2 separate regions of the Homo sapiens genome follow, and region 2 is linked to region 1. Evidence: fine-mapped expression QTL. A gene starts in region 1. The other region holds a variant in brackets. All regions are shown on one strand. Distances are between the middles of the regions.

What was found. PIP is the estimated chance that this variant, and not a neighbour inherited with it, causes the effect.
Region 2: its variant is fine-mapped to the expression of EXOG in whole blood (TOPMed, PIP above 0.99).

Annotation. Positions count from the first base shown.
Region 1 is chr3:38,492,864-38,501,201 of GRCh38, forward strand. It overlaps EXOG (exo/endonuclease G), which reads left to right and starts at 3,477. Exons shown (of 6, transcript NM_005107.4): 1 at 3,477-3,667; 2 at 4,766-4,915. The coding sequence starts at 3,505. ACVR2B (activin A receptor type 2B) reads left to right here. Exons shown (of 11, transcript NM_001106.4): 11 at 1-279. RefSeq lists enhancers at 3,626-3,675, 3,736-3,805.
Region 2 is chr3:38,446,077-38,454,414 of GRCh38, forward strand. It overlaps ACVR2B (activin A receptor type 2B), which reads left to right and starts at 7,814. Exons shown (of 11, transcript NM_001106.4): 1 at 7,814-8,298. The coding sequence starts at 8,247. It overlaps ACVR2B-AS1 (ACVR2B antisense RNA 1), which reads right to left. Exons shown (of 2, transcript NR_028389.1): 2 at 4,951-7,149. It also overlaps a transcript of XYLB not described here. RefSeq lists an enhancer at 7,396-7,895 and silencers at 7,614-7,663, 7,674-7,793, 8,214-8,338. The variant C/T (reference allele first, on the strand shown) is at 4,880.

The DNA.
Region 1 (8,338 bases):
TTTGGAAAGAACATTGTATCATAGTTCATTCATTTGCAGTGGATCTTTGTTCCTTTTTACTGTGGTAATTTTAGAAATGAGTGTCAAGTTTGAAATTAGATCTGCTAAGTTGGGGTTTTGCTGCTTGAACTCTGCACTGGGTCCTCAAATAAACCGATGTGAATGTAGTTTTTTCCCCCTGTGTGAAGAAGCAGTTACACCCCAACAATAGGAGGAAAAATCTAGAACTATTTCAAGTTTTATCTTTTTGTATATGAAAATAAAATAATAATAAAACAATCTTGTCTTTCTTAATTACGTGGCAGGGGATTGGAGTTTCCTTTCATGAGGATTAGACATGAAATGAAATGGCGTTCGGCTGCTTAGAGGGCTGACTCAAGTCAGTTCCTGTTTGGTATGTGTAACATTAACAGATGTTAATGGCTGAATGCCTAGTCTGCCATGGTCCTGTGGGGCTGGAGCTAAGCACAGGTCTCCATTTCTGCCATTCAGAAGTCCAGGGTCTAGTTGGGGACATTATGAATGGGGACCATTCTCCTGAACGAACTGTTCTGGGATTTTGAGTAAGTTTCTGCAGGTTAGCATATTTTCCAAATGTCCAAGACACTCCCCATTCCCTCATCCTCTGCCACCAGTCCTGTACTTTGCAGACAACCCTGAGCAATATTGTTGTAAGTGGAGCAGAGAAGCCTTGAAAATAGTTGTATTCAGGACTATTGCAGATGACAAACTCTGTCATTCCCAAACGTTGCTGAGTACTGGAGTCATTTGCGGAGCTATTAAAAAATACAATTATGGGTCCTTATCCCCAACCTGGAATTAGCAAACCAGGTCTCCAGTTTCAGAGATTTGGACTTAATCTCACTAAAGGAACTCATGGTTCCCCAATAATAAAATAATGATAGTCTTTAATACCTAACAAAACAGGAAGGCCCCAGAAATCACCTCACTGCTTTCTGCAGTAACAAGTTTTTTTGGTCGATGACTCTTTCTTGCCTAAGTGGAGAAACACCCTTTAAATTCACCCTTTATTATGAGAATTAAGCAACGGTTTGAAACTTGTGGAGAAAGTTTTTGATGACCCTTTATTCAGGGACCAGTTGCCCAATATTTGGCTGTTTTTGCTCTTTCACGTTTAGAAAGTTCACCTTTTATTAGTGAGTGCCTCTAATGAAGGAAGGAGAGCAAAGGGCTGACATTTTTGATACAGGATCTTGGAGCTGGAAAAGCTGAAAGGTTGGACCTTAGGAGTCATCTGGTCAAACTTTCCCTATAGCAAAGGAATTCTTTGACCAAAGAAATTTGACACAGAAGTTGGTTTATAAAACCAGGCTTGTCTGAATGAGCAAGTAGAAGAGGGCCAAGGGACCATTTCACTTACCCTCCCATCCCTTCCTTTAAGTCTCAGGTATCCCTATGGAACACCTAGGAACCTTGATTAAAGTTTACAAATCACTGGCCCAATTCCAATTTTACAGGTGGGCAAACAGGCCCAGAGGGAGTTTTCCTACCCTGAGGCAGGCAACCCTTCCAGTTCTTGACCTCTTGGGACCAAAAGTGGGGTTACACTTGTTCAGAAGTAGAGGATCTGGATTAGGAAAAGCCATCTAATATTTATCTCTCTAGTATTTAGCACAGTGTCTGGCACTTACAAGGGCCTTAAGAAATACAGTACCTCAGTGATTGTGTATTTAGTAAATTCTGGGGAAAGCTGCTGAAGTAGCCTTGAAGCCTACAGATACCAGTGTTGTCTGGTTGTATTTGTTAGGATTCTTGGTTGCAGGTGACAGAAGCCATTAGACAAAAAAGGGGGTTTCACTGAAAGGATTCTGGGGGAAATGACTAGCCAAGACTTCAGAAAGGCAGGATGTATGTGGGCTTCAGGAGCCTGTGGGAGTTGGGGTCATAACATTGCAGGCCTCCACCTGTGTCCTGGTATTTCTTCCATTATTGCTCAGAGCAAGACCAGATGCATCTGCTCCTTTGACTTCTTAGCAGGAAACAAGGCTGTAGACAGTGCCAGAGCTTTTTTTTTTTTTTTTAGACAGAGTCTTGCTCTATTGCCCAGATTGGAGTGCAGTGGCACGATCTCAGCTCACTGCAACCTCCGTCTCCTGGGTTCAAGCAATTCTGCCTCAGCCTTTCGAGTAGCTGGGATTACAGGCACGCGCCACCACACCTGGTTGATTTTTGTATTGTTAGTAGAGACGGGGTTTCACCATGTTGGCCAGGCTGGTCTCAAATTCCTGACCTCAGGTGATCCTCCAGTCTTGGCCTCCCGAAGTGCTGGGATTGCAGGCATGAGCCACTGCGCCTGTGAGTTTTACGTCACAGCTTTGCTACCCAGAGAGACTACTAGATCGAAAATCCCTAGGAAGGACTCTGGTTGATGTAGCTTAACCAGTCAGGGTCCTTCAGAAGAGGTATTCCTGGCAAGGGGGTAGCCTCCCATTTGAGGCTGTCAAAATAATGTGCACACTTCAGTAGGTTGTTAGAAGTGGCCTCCTGGTCAGTGAATCATCAGTGGGATCAGATGAAAGTTATTCCTACCAGTTATCTAAGAAATAGGAAACTTGAAGTTTCTGCTAAGAACTAAGTCCACACGGAATGCTAGAGATCATGCTGCAAAATGAAGACTCATTTGTTTGTGAGTGGTAGTCCATGAAATCTATCCTTTCTTTGCCAGCAGGCGTTCAGCAATCTGGATTTTATATTCTATCAAGACAAAGAGTAGAGATGACTCAAACATTTCTAACATTTATAGAGCACTTAGTGACATGCCCCTGGTACTTCCCTAAACATTTTACATGTGTCATCTCCTTTAATCCTCACAAGAACGCTATGGTCTAAGTATTATTATTCCAATTTAAAAGAGAAGGTTGGGGACAGTGACACACACCTGGACTTACAGCACTTTGGGAGGCCGAGGCGGGAAGATTGCTTGAGGCCAGAAGTTGGATACCAGCCTGGGCAACATAAGGAGACCCCCTTCTTTACCGCTCCCCCACTCCCGCCAAAAATTTAGCCGGGCAATGTGGCACGTGCCTGTAGTCCCAGCTACTCAGGAGGCTGAGGCAGGAGGATCGCTTGAGCCCACGAGTTCGAGATCGCAGTAAGCTATGATCATTCCACTGTACTGCAGCCTGGGTAACAGAGACCCTGTCGCTAAATAAATAAATAGACCTGAGTTGGAATATCGGCTCTGGAGACCTTAGTGTAACCATGCGCAAGTGTTTACTCACCTATTAAATGAGACTAAAGGTATTTTCTTCTCATGACTATATATAGCATACCACTAAGCCCTCTAGACATCATATTCCCCATCCATCGCCCCGTCCAGTGGACCAGGGATGAAGCGGGGATGCGCTAGGCATCCCGGTTTGTCACCAGGGGGCGTGCGAGGCCCTCAGCTTGGCGGGCGGTGAGGCGTGGGGTGACGGGGGGATGGCGGGGGCCGGCATGCGCGCGCATGCGCCGTGGTAAAAGGCCGGTACCTCGGGCAAGATGGCTATCAAGAGTATCGCTTCCCGCCTCCGGGGTTCCCGTCGTTTTCTGAGCGGCTTCGTGGCTGGGGCTGTAGTGGGCGCTGCGGGAGCTGGGCTCGCGGCCCTGCAGTTCTTCCGGAGTCAGGGCGCTGAGGGAGCGTTGACAGGGAAGCAGCCGGATGGTAAGTCTGTGGGCCCGTCCTCCCTTCGCTGGCCCAGATTTCGGGCTCCGACTCCTACCTGGAGTGTGAATGGCAGTCCTTGACGGACAGCCTTCACCGTTTGCTGGGCCCCTAGCCTGGCCCTTGGTTTCTGACCTTTATTCTCCCGGCTCGGCCTCCCTTCCCCACCTCGCGTCTCGCCAGCTTCCCTCATGTCCTTCCTTCCCCCGGGCATCTTCGTTTTCTGCACAGAACCACCCCCGCCGCCCGACTTTCTTCCCCCCAGTTACTCATCGCGATATCTATGTTTTAATGTCTGTGTTCTCTACTAAGATTGTTAGCTCCATAAGACTTGAGACTATGTCTGTTTTGGTCTCCATCATCTAACCAGCACAGTACCTGGTACATAATTGGCATTCAGTAAGTATGAATGAAGGAATAAATTAATACATAATTTTAGTAGATGAGTTAACTGCCCTTCTTTCGTCATTGTTCAGTTGAAGAATACCTGCTATCCCTCCAAAGTGTATAAAAACTCATGTTGCAATGGGTACCTTATATTTGACAAAAAAAAAAAAAAAATTAACACGAGCTCATTTCTTGTACTTTGCGGATGTGCTAATTTAACTTGCTCCTTTGGATACTTGGCATCTAGCAAGAGAACTACCCCCTTGGGGGGTTGAGGATTTGAGAAGGCATCGGGGAGGATTATCTCGAAACTGACTCACTGCTGAATGTGTGCTTGGTTTCTCCCACTAGGAAAAACAGTACCAGTTTTACTGTCATCTTGCAACAGCACACATATCAGTGCTTCAGAGATGATTTGGAAATTTGATGTGAAAGACTAATAAGATCAAGTCTTTATTCAAAAGTTAATGCAGTAGCTGCATTTTATTCACTGATTATAGGCAAATCAGTACTTTGCCTACTGTCTGTTTTCTTCATCTCATAAGTAATTGCAAAAATGAGATTTTCTGGTTGATTAGACTTCTGAGCCAGTCCTTTGTAAATCACACCGCTCTCCTTTTCCTTATAATCTTTCATTATTAAGAGCCACTAATTGTGTGTGTGTGTTTTTTTTGTCTCTGCCCCCCCTTTTTTTTTTTTTTTCATTTTTAGGATCTGCAGAAAAGGCTGTCTTGGAACAATTTGGATTCCCTTTAACTGGAACAGAGGCAAGGTGTTACACTAATCACGCTTTGTCTTATGATCAGGCAAAGCGGGTGCCTAGATGGGTTCTTGAACATATTTCCAAAAGCAAGATAATGGGTAGGTGGTTGGATAAAAAAACTGAAGTAACAGTATTTATGAAAGATGTCTCCAAATTTAAAACAGGGATGATTATTAATATTCTCAACCTTTTTCATATCATAGCACATGTAGAAAATTATATTTATATAACTTACTGGTTAAATCAACCCTGCCTGGCAGCCAGAAAGCCAGACCCTTTCCAGCTGTCTCAGGGCTGAAAATACCCATATCTTGACACACTAGTTGGGAGGCTCTGTCATAAATATTACAGCAATGAGCACCATTCAGTTTTACCTTAACAAATATTTATGTGCCTGCTATGTGTCTGGCACTGTGGTAACCCTTGGGGACCTATGTGTGACCAGAGTAGAGGATCTCTACCCCAGTGACACTTTGAGTTGGGAGAGTGGGTTGACCCATCAAACAAATAATTTTAGATGTATAATTACAATAATTTTTCCAAAGGAGGTGATTGCAAGTTAGTGTAGTATAATTAAGGAACAGTAAAAAGTTTGATGAGAGGCTGGGCGTGGTGGCTCACACCTGTAATCCCAGTACTTTGGGAGGCTGAGGCGTTTGAGCTCAGGAGTTTGAGATGAGCCTGGCCAACATGGCAAAACCGCGTTTCTACAAAAAATACAAAAATTAGCTGGGCGTGGTGGTGCACCTCTGTGGTTCCAGCTACTTGGGGGACTGAGATGGGAGGATCTCTTGAGCCCAGGAGGTGGGGGTTGCAGTGAGCCAAGATCGCAGCACCACACTCCAGCTTAGGCAACAGAGGGAGAATGTGTCTCAAAAAAAAAAAAAAGTGTGATGAGAGATTATAACACAAGAACCTGATTTTGATTAGTAAGGCTTCTCTGGAAAAGTGGACTGAAGAGTGAACGGAAATTACTTAGGCAAGGGGTTGAATGTGCCATGGGATATGGAGAAGAGCATTCTAGGAAGAAAGGAACATTTGCATCTTCGGAGGCCCCCAATGTGGACAGGAGTTTTGTTCTTTTAGGGAACTAAAAGAGTGCCAGTAGATGAATGAGGGGGAAGGTGATGTGAAATGATGCTGGAGAAGTAAGCAGGTGTGTCAGTTTATTCATGTGTCCTTATGTCTTGATAGGGTCCTGTAGAATTGCCAGATCTTGATAATTAATGTCAAATTGGTTTCTAGGTAGATTCTTCAAGTTTACACTCCTAGCATCATTGTTTCTTCTCTCTCTCAACCTTCACCTATGGTGAGCATTACTGAGCTTTACCAATTTAATGCTCATTTTACTTGTGTTTATTGATTATCAATGAGGGTTAACATGCTGTGAATTAGTCTTTTTTGGTAAGTTATTCTTTACCTATTTCAGTTGGGGTATTCTCTTTTGAATTTATTTGTAAAAGTTCTTTTATTTATTAAGGATATTACCTTTTGTCACAGTTGTTTTGTTCCCTTTTGTTATTTGCTTTTTAATTTGCTGTGTGTTCCACATATTCTCCTTTGCTTTAAAATGTGTGCTATGGCTATGCATATTAAAATGCTGATATTAAAGTTAGTGTGTGCCATTCTAGAGTGCACAGCAACCAGCAGAATAACAGGAGGCTTGGAATGTACTTGGTGTTAGACAGAAACTGATGTAAGTGAAAACTTTATCAAGCATATAAGAAAACCTGGGCATTTTATATTGTATAATAAGTCTTGTGAGCTGTGTACTTTTGAGGCAATAAAATAGAGCCAATTAATATTATTTGAAAATAGGGAGCAATGTACCTGTGTTTTACTTGATTTTAATGTAAAAGGTCTTCTGTTTTCAGTAATGATGGACTGAGTTATTCAGATAGAATCTTCCTGCTGAAACAGAAAATGTTAGTATATAAAAAGTGTATATCTGTATTTTTTTTACCTTTTTTTTTGAGATGGATTTTTGCTATGTTGCCTAGGCTGGTCTTGAATTTCTGGGTTCAAGTGACCCTCCTGCCTCAGCCTCCTGAGTAGCTGGGATTACAGGTATGTGCCACTATGCCCAACTAAAAGTATATCTTTTAAAAAATGGCTTAAGAAAAATGAAGAGCCAGCAGCATAGTGGCGAATTGCTAGGTTAGTGTTGGTGGGAGAAAGCGAGAATCCAAAGAGGTAAGCGCAGTCTTGGCAAACCAAAACCACATTTGCCTTTGAATTCACAGCATTATGGGGTGAGGAGGATTGAAGGAAAGACCTAAGACTCACCCAAGGTAGATTGTCCTGTAGGTCTTGCAGTGTAGGAGACCCTTCCTGTGTTACCCTGGAACTCCAAAGGGCTACATCCTCAGGGAAGAGTGAACTAGAACTAACTTCCCTGCCCACTCTTAGGGACTACATGGAAGGTTGTCTTGGCACTGAACGGAGAAAGGTCAAAAGGAAGATAAAAAGTTTGTTCCAGAGAAGGTAAAGTCAAAAACTGGCTATCATGCAGACTTACAGCCCAAATCTGTGCATCGAGAGGAGATCAGGGAACCTTAATCCCTGAGCATGGTTTAATACGGTTCTCCACTGGGAATACTGCTAGACACCTTACAGCAGTAAATTTATATCTTTTCTCAAGGAAGGTATCTTTTTAGGTCTTTGGAAATTCCTACAAATTGCTTTTCCAGGGCAGTAAGCACCAGCCAAAGATAACTAGCTGTAGAAGGAAGTGATTCCAATGGTAATGACACTTAGAAATTTACTAATGATAAATTTTTCTGTATTATTCTTTATAAAGTGATTCTAAAAAGCTACATATATGATACTTTACTGTAAACTTTGGGATCTGATACTAAATTTTTCTTGGCTGAATGAAATCACCTTGGAATCAGTGACTTCATTGTTCTCCATTTTACACTTCTTTGAATAACAGTCTGAGTATGTTTCATTTGTTGTCATAACTTTTGTAGTTTAAGAAAGTCTCACCTCACGATAGTGCAATAGGTAGTGTTAGGATTTGCTAATGTTCTCTGTGACAAACCATTCTGGAGGTGTCAGAAAATAAATAAAATCTGAGATTTCTTCTCTCCTATGTGGTACCCAGATATTCTGTTTTAGAAATTTCTGGGTGGAGCTCATAACTTAAATGTTTATTTTGTCATGGTTCGAGAGGCAGTAAGCAAGATATCAGAGACACTCCTCTCCCCAAGGCTGTGCTTGCCTAGAACAAATTGTTTTGTGTCTATATATATCCATTATTTCAGTACACATAAACTTGTCAAATACAATCGTACAAAATACAATACATGGGAGTCTTTTTTAAAAAACAAGAGTTTATTTAGTAGCCAAGCTTTTTATATAGTTTAGTGTTTTGATTGGTGATTGTTTTTACTTAAAATACTATTCAGAGGAGTTTTTCTTTAACTGGAAAGGCCAGAGTCAAAATTATATGAGATAGCTACACTGTATGAAAAGCATTCTTTCCTAGACTAGTACTTTCTAAATTCAGATGAAGTATC
Region 2 (8,338 bases), 47 kb before region 1:
GAAAGAACAAAGCTTCCACAGCATGGAAGGAGACCCAAGTGGGTTGCTGCTGCTGGCTGGGGTGGCCAGCTTTTATTCCCATATTGGTCCCCACCTATGTCCTGTTGATTGGTCCATTTTACAGTGTGCTGATTGCCAGATTAGAGTGCTGATTGGTCCATTTTACAAACGTCTAGCTAGCCACAGAGAGCTGATTGGTGCATTTTTACAGAGTGCTGATTGGCACATTTTACAGACTTCTAGGTAACCACAGAATGCTGATTGGTGCATTTTAAAATCCTAGCTATAGAGCACTGATTGGTACATTTTACAATCCTCTTGTAAGACAGAAAAGTTCTCCAAGTCCCCACCCCATCCAGAGTCCAGCTGGTTTCACCTCTCAGTAGCAACCCTGAGTGAAAAGAACAAAGCTGGAGGCATCACATTACCTTACTTCAAAATATATTACAGGGATGTATTAACAAAAATAGCATGGTACTGGTATAAAAATAGACACATAGACCAATGGAACAGAATAGAGAACCCAGAAATAAAGCCACATATTTATAGCCAACGAATCTTTAACAAAGCTGACAAGAACTTATATTGGGGAATGGAAACCCTCTTCAATAAATAGTGCTGGGAAAATTGGGTAGTCACATGCAGAAGAATGAAACCAGACCCCTATCTCTCACCATATACAAAAACCAAATCAAAATGGACTAAAGACTTAAATTCAAAATTTGAAACTATGAAAATACCAGAAGAAAACCTAGGGAAAACTCTCCTGGACATTGGTCTAGGCAAAGAATTTATGACTAAGACCTCAAAAGCACAGGCCATAAACACAAAAATAGACAAATGGGACTCTATTAAACTAAAAGGCTTCTGCAAAGCAAAAGAAACAATCAACAGAGTAAAGAAACAACCTGTTGAATGGGAGAAAATATTTGCTAAGTATTAATCCAACAGGGGACTAATATCCAGAATATACAAGGAACTCAAACAACTGAACAGGAACAAAATCCCAAATAATCCCATTAAAAAGTAGACAAAGGACATGCATAGACATTTTGAAAAGAAGACATATAAATGGATAACAGCATATGAAAAAATGCTCAATGTCACTTATCATCAGAGAAATACAAATCAAAGCCACCATATAATTATCTTATCCCAGCTGGAATGGCTACTATTATAAAGACAAAAAATAACAATGTTGACGAGGATGCAGAGAAAATGGAACTCTTTTTTATTTTATTTTTGGAGACAAGGTCTCACTCTGTTGCCCAGGTTGGAGTGCAGTGTCACGATCATGGCTCAGTGGAGCCTTCACCTCCTGGGCTCAAGTGATCCTCCCACTTCAGCCTCCTGAAGAGCCGAGACCACAGGCATGCACCACCACATCTGGCTAATTTTTTTTTTTTTTTTTTTTTTTTGTAGATACAAGCAGGGTCTCCCTATGTTGGTCCAGGATGGTCTCAAACTCCTGAACTCCAGCAATCCTCCCTCCTCGGCCTCCCATAATGCTGGGATTACAGGCATGTGTCACCACATCTGGCCGAAAAGGGAACTCTTATACACTGTTGGTGGGAATGTAAACTAGCACAGTTATTATGGAAAACAACCGTATAGAGAGTTCTCTAAAAACTAAAAACAGAATTACTATGTGATCCTGCAATCCCAGTATTGGATAGCTACCCAAAGGAAAAGGAATCAATATATTAAAGGAATACCTCCATTCTTGTTTATTATTGCACTATTCTTAAAAGAGAAGATATAGAATCAACCTAAGCATTCATCAACGGATGAACAGATAAAGAAAATGTAGTATATATACACAATGAAATACTATTCGGCCATTAAAAAGAATGAAATTGGCCAGGCATGGTGGCTCATGACTGTAATCCTAACACTTGGAGAAACTGAGGAGGAAGGATTGCTTGAGCCCAAGAGTTTGAGACCAGCCTGGGCAACATAGTGAGACCTTGTCTCATAAATTTTAATTAAAAAAAAAAGAAACCCTGTCATTGGCAGCATCGTGGATGGATCTGGATATATCTTAAGTGAACTAAGCCAGGCACAACAAGACAAATATATATTCTCACTTATATGTGGAAACTAAAATATTTTATTTTATGGCAGTAGAGAGATAGATAACAGAGACTGGGAGGGGTGAGTAGGGAGCTGGGGTGGGTGGGTGAAGAGAACTGGGTTAAAGGGTACAAACATACAGATAGAATAAACTCAATGTCTGATAGCTGAGTAGGGTGACTATATTTAAGAATAATGTATTGATCTTGGGTGATGGATACCTAAATGCCATTACTTGAACAATACACATTATATACATGCAACAAAATTTCTCATGTCCTCCATGAATTTGTACAAAAATACCTGTAAAAATCAAATTAAACTAAAATCCTTGACTGATAATCCCATTATCTCTGTCACTTCTGTATCTGTTCCTATTGAATGATTTTTCTGCTTCTTTTGGGTCACATTTTCCTGCTTCTTCCTATGCTTAGTAATTCTTTTATTAGATGTGGGCATTTAAAATATTTTTTTACTGAGTGTCAGATTGATAGAATTTCTTTAAAAAGTGATGGTTCCTCTGGTGGGTAGTTAAATTAACTTATAGATCAAGTTGATCATGTCAAGGCTTGTTCCTTTAGCTTAGTATTGAGGTTTACAATAGCCTTTATTATCTAGGGCTGGTTTAGCTCCACTATGGAGTGACTCTCTGGGTCTCTACTGAATGTTCTGAGTTTTCCATGAAGACTCCAATTTTGCTGGGTGGAGCTAAACATTTCCCCATCCTGTGTGAATTCTTGGAGGTTCTCAGGTATGTCATATACCCTGTTGTATCCTGCTCCCTCTTGCGCAGAGGCTCGCCCACACAGCTTTTGTTGCTATTAGTAGTTTGTCTCTATTTGCTTGTATTTTGATGTTTTGAGGGAAATCCTGTCACCTGGTTTTTCAGTGAGTGCACTTGGATGGTCTGGTTTTTTCCATACAGTTGCTCTGTGTTTTTCATTTTTATTTATTTATTTATTTTAATTAATTAATTATTGCTATTTTGTGAGACATTCAAGTCTTGCTCTGTTGCCAGGCTGGAGTGCAGTGGCATGATTTTGGCTCACTGCAACCTCCACCTCCTGGGTTCAAGTGATTCTCCCACCTCAGCCTACTGAGTAGCTGGGACTACAGGTATGTGCCACCATGCCCAGCTAATTTTTGTATTTTTAGTAGAGACAGGGTTTCACCGTGTTGGCCAGAATGGTCTCGATCTCTTGACCTCGTGATCCACCTGCCTTGGCCTCCCAAAGTGCTCAGATTACAGGCGTGAGCCACCATGCCCAGCCTTATTTTTATTTATTTTTAACAAACGGGGGTCTCACTATGTTGTCCAGGCTAGTCTTGAACTCCTGGGCTCAAGTGATGCTCCTGCCTCAGCCTCCTGATGTGCTGGGATTACAGGCATAAGCCATCACACCCAGCTTACTCTGTGTTTTCATGTGAAGATTTTGAAAGATTCAAAAACAATGCAGCCAACAACCTAACCATCATCTTCCCAGTCTGGTAGAAGTTTTAAGGGCCAGCATTTACCATGCTCTCTTTCCCTTGTCTCTCCAATAGTAGAAGCATGTATCAAAAGGTAGCCCTCTTAGTCTGTGTCCCTGAGTTATTACAATGAGTAGAGCTTGTTTGTTGACCTCCAATGGATATGTATCACGAGAAAGATATAAATTTTGTTATTTTAAGCCATTAAGGTTTTGGGATTTTTCCATTAGCACAGCATAATCTAATCTCTCTTGAGAGATAGTGTTAGCTTTCTACCCAAGCCAATTCATTTTTTTGACCTCAAGTAACCACCATTAAGTTAAGAGAAAGGGGCGGGGAAAGTACGAGGTCTAGGAAGAAAATAAATAAGGCAAAGAAATAAAGCACTTTGAGAACTGTGTCTAGGAAATAACAGATAGCTTATTAAGTCTTGGGGGAACTGTATTACCAAAGAAAGTATACACTGCCCACCCCTCCCCCAACAATTATACACTGTGAATGGTACTCTCATAAAATTGTTTAATTTCGTATTGCTATGCCTAAATTACCCACTACAGTGAATGTCTAACCAGGGCCTCTCAGAAACTGAGAGAGGGTGAGGCCACTTATATTTTCTCAAATGAAGAAATTCCCAAATAACATTATAAAAACTGTGGTTACTTTCAAAGTTTATCTTGCTAAATGAATGTATTTAATCCCTTAATAGAATTCATTATAATTATATAGATGCCAAGTCTTATTACAATGCTATAGTTTTCCATCTTCTTCCATAGCTTGATACTAAAGAATGTCATGTTCAACTGATTCTTCTCAATTCCTTGGTTTCTGGTCTTGATTGTTGAAGGGTGGGGAAGCCAGGGAATAGTGGTCCTAACACACTGAATGCCTTAATGGCAGAATTCACTGCCATAAATTCTACAGCAGACATTTGGGGTTTCAGATTTTTTTTGCCTTTCAGTTTTTGGTCACCCGATGTCTGATACCAAATGTGATATTTAGCAATCTTGTAGTCGTTCAAAAGAACAGAAAACCCAAATAGAACTCGTTTTTCAAATATCCATTATCACCTTTCTCAACCAGCCTAGTATTTGCTTGATGAGCTCATGATCAAAATGATGGCAGGGAATCACTTTGGTTACTATATGGAAGATTTATTTAAGGCAAGAATGAATTCAGAGGACCAGTTAAGCTCCCTTCTGGTTCACTGCTATTGCAACAGTCCAGATATAAGACAATGTTGCAGTAGTGTACATGGAAAAAAGTAGTCGGATGGTGGATACACTTTTGAGGCTATTTTGCTGATGGACTGTATATGGGAGGAATCAAGTATTGTTAC[C/T]GAAACACCAGGGGTTTGGTCTAGGTCCTGCTGCTCGGTGCACAGAAAGCCAATCACTGAGATGACAAGTATTGCCAAGGAAGAAGGCTTTAATCAGGTGCTGCAGCCAAGGAGATGGGAGTGCAGTCTCAAATCCATCTCCTTGACTGACCAAAACCAAGGGTTTATATAGCAGGAAAGAAATGTAACAATATGTAAGAAAACAGGAACATGGGAGGGGCAAGGAAGCAATCATGGTGACTGAGGGGCCCAGCATCTAGTGCAGTGATCTGGTTTCAGTTCTTTTGATACTTTTTATGGCTTCAGTTCTTTGATACTTTTTGTGAGAGGCCTGAAGGTCCTTTCCTGAGGAAGGAACTCGGATAAAACAAGTAAGTTTCCAGCTTTAACTGCAAAAGGGTCAACTTCTATAATCCCAGCACTTTGGGAGGCTGAGGCAGGCAGGTCACCTGAAGTTGGGAGTTCAAGACCAGCCTGGCCAACATGATGAAACCCTGTATCTACTAAAAATACAAAACTTAGCTGGGCATGGTGGCGTGCCTGTAATTCCAGCTACTTGGGAGGCTGCGGCAGGAGAATCACTTGAACTCAGGAGGTGGAGGTCGCAGTGAGCCGAGATCGTGCCACTGCACTCCAGTGAGGGCAATAAGAGCCAAACTCTGTCTCAAAAACAAAAACAAAAACAAAAACAAAAACAACTGTCTATGGGACTCTTTGGCTGGTTTCAGTAGGACTCATAAGGTTCTGATTTGAGCAATGGTGTAGTTGCTTATGCCATTGATTCAGACAGGGAAAACTGGGGAGGAGATTTACGGGGAAAATGAGGACTTCTGCTTTGGCTAGGTCAAATTTGAGATGCCTGATAGGCTACCAACTGCAGTTGTCAAGTAAGCAGTTGGATATAAATTTGGGGTTCCCAGACAGGTCAGAGTGGAAGACACAGATATTTGGGCAGCTTGGACCACTCTGAGTCCTTATTATGATACCTGACCTGGTATGGAGTAGAAGAGAGGAACCAGCCAATCTAATTTTTGGCACATGGATAAAAGTCGATACCTTTCAGTCCATATTGGAATGGAGATAACGATTTATACTCCCTAGAAAAGACACTTAAACTGGATATGGAATTACTTCCGTTATCACAGTCTATCACTGTGGCCTCCTGTGTTATTACCAGATACCTTATACACAGCTAGGGTGTCCCATACAACACTGCTTCTTGCTTGGCACACAGTCGCATAGTATTCAATCCTGTGTTAAATGGCTTAGATAATAAGTCACCTGTAGGGATTATAGCAAGCAGGGACCATCATTTTCACATAGAATTTCCCAGGACTGGAAGGGACTTTTAAAGACCCAGAAATCTTTCTGGGCAGTGCCTCCAAAGTGTGGCCCCTGAGGTGTTCCTGCTGCTCTGGTGACCGGGGGTAGTTGACCCTATTTCAATGTCAATCAGAACAATATACATTCCTTTATAAACTTGTTTTTTTTTTGAGAGAGAGTCTCACTCTGTCACCTAGGATGGAGTGCAGTGGTGCAATCTCAGCTCACTGCAACCTCCGCCTCCCTCCTGTGTTCAAGCGATTCTCCTGCCTCAGCCTCCTACCGAGTAGTTGGAATTACAGGTGTGTGTCACCATGCCCAGCTAATTTTTGTATTATTTAGTAGAGACAGGTTTTTGCCATGTTGGTCAGGCTGGTCTCGAACTCCTGACCTCAAGAGCCTCCTGGGCCTCTAAAAGTGCTGGAATTACAGGTTTGAGCCACCTCGCCCTGCCTATAGTGAACATTTACATAATATTTTGTTTGACTAGGTTTCTGCCATTAAGAAGATGCAAAACCCTGAGGGAGTGTACCTCTTCACTTTGCATATGGGAAAACTGAGGCTCAGAGAAGTGAAATGACTGAGACCTCCAGGTGCCACCTCCCTTTCAGCTGCTCCTGCCCTGCTCCAAGCAAGGATGTGCCAAGTCAAGAGAAGACAGAGGACAATTAATGTTATCTGAGGATCTCGGAGCCTCATCCCTGAGCTATGATGGTCTTTCCCTCCTTAGTTGGGAGCCCCATCACGTTCCTCCGAAGCTCTAGTTGTGTGATAAGGAGGGTGGAATCTGAGACAGAGAACGATGGCCCTCCAAGGAGGGAGTTCGGGGTGAGGAAAACAGCAAAACCATGTGCTAGACAAGATCTTCAACTGCAGGGCTCTGGAGGCAACTGGGAAGTTTTGAAAGTGCAGATTGAAGCTCAGGGCCGCTGTGGGTGGCGCAGGAACTGCAGAAGACAAGATAGGATTAGGGAGGGCCAGCAGGTTGCCAGAGGCCCTTTTCCACCTGCTGGGCTTAGAGGGGCGGGACTCTGCCCGCTCCCTCACTTGGTTGGGTTTAAATGACCACTCCCCGCCCTAGCTGTGCCTTTGAGTGTGTGGCAAGGGATTGCAGACGGGAGACTGCTTGTCAATTCAGGGAAGTCAGCCTCTTTCTGCCACTTAATTCGCCCATCAGTAGAGATCCGACTTTCCCACGGTTCACTGTCACCCCCATTGCACAGGTGGGGAATCCAAGGCACAGAGGCGTCTGGGCCAGAGTCCCGGGACTATCCACTCATTCCGGGGTTGTAGGGCAGCATGTGTCAGGAGCTTGGGCTCGAGCGTGCGGGGCACTAATTGCGAGTGCAGTGGCCACAGGCTCCCGGGCAAAGTGGTCAGGAGCCCATTCCCGCCACCTCCGTCCGCGCGCCCCGCCCTGTCCTCCAGCAAGTTGGTGCACGCGCGTCCTCCCACAGGGCGCGGGATGGGGGCGGGGCCTCCGTGTTGTTGTTTCTCTGGGGCCCCGCCCCTCAGGGGGGCGCGGACCACGCGGCCGGAGGGCCCGCCTCCCCTCCCCCTCCCCGCCCAGCCCGCCCGCCTCTTTGTATCCAACATCCGGGTTTCCCCGCTGGCTCGGCTCCGTGGCCGCCGCTCAGGAGCCATTTTGGACTCGGTTCAGCTCCCCTCCCCCCCACCCCTCCCCCCGTTCATGGCCCCTCCGGACTCGGCCCCTGCGCCCGGGGCCCGGGCCCAGCCCCGCCGCGCTATGCCTGAGTCGGGCGCGCCCCGGCCCGTGCCCCGCCGCCGCCCCCCGGCCCCCGCGTCGCCCCGGAGCCCGGGCCGCAGCCTGCGCCGCCCGCAGCGGCCCTGAGCCCGGCCCCGCCGACCGGCCCTTGGAGCCCGAACGCTGCTCGGGGACGAAGGCGCAGGAAGCGCGCAGGGAACGAGACCGAAGGAAGGAGCGGGAAGGAGAGCGCAGCCGCCGCCTGGCCCTGCGCGCCCCGGGAGCGCCGTGCGGCCCTGCCCGCGGGCTCCGGGTGTGCGCGGGGCGGCGCCGCGGAACATGACGGCGCCCTGGGTGGCCCTCGCCCTCCTCTGGGGATCGCTGTGCGCCGGTAAGAACTGGGCGCGGCGCGGGGACGCCGAGAGGGCGCG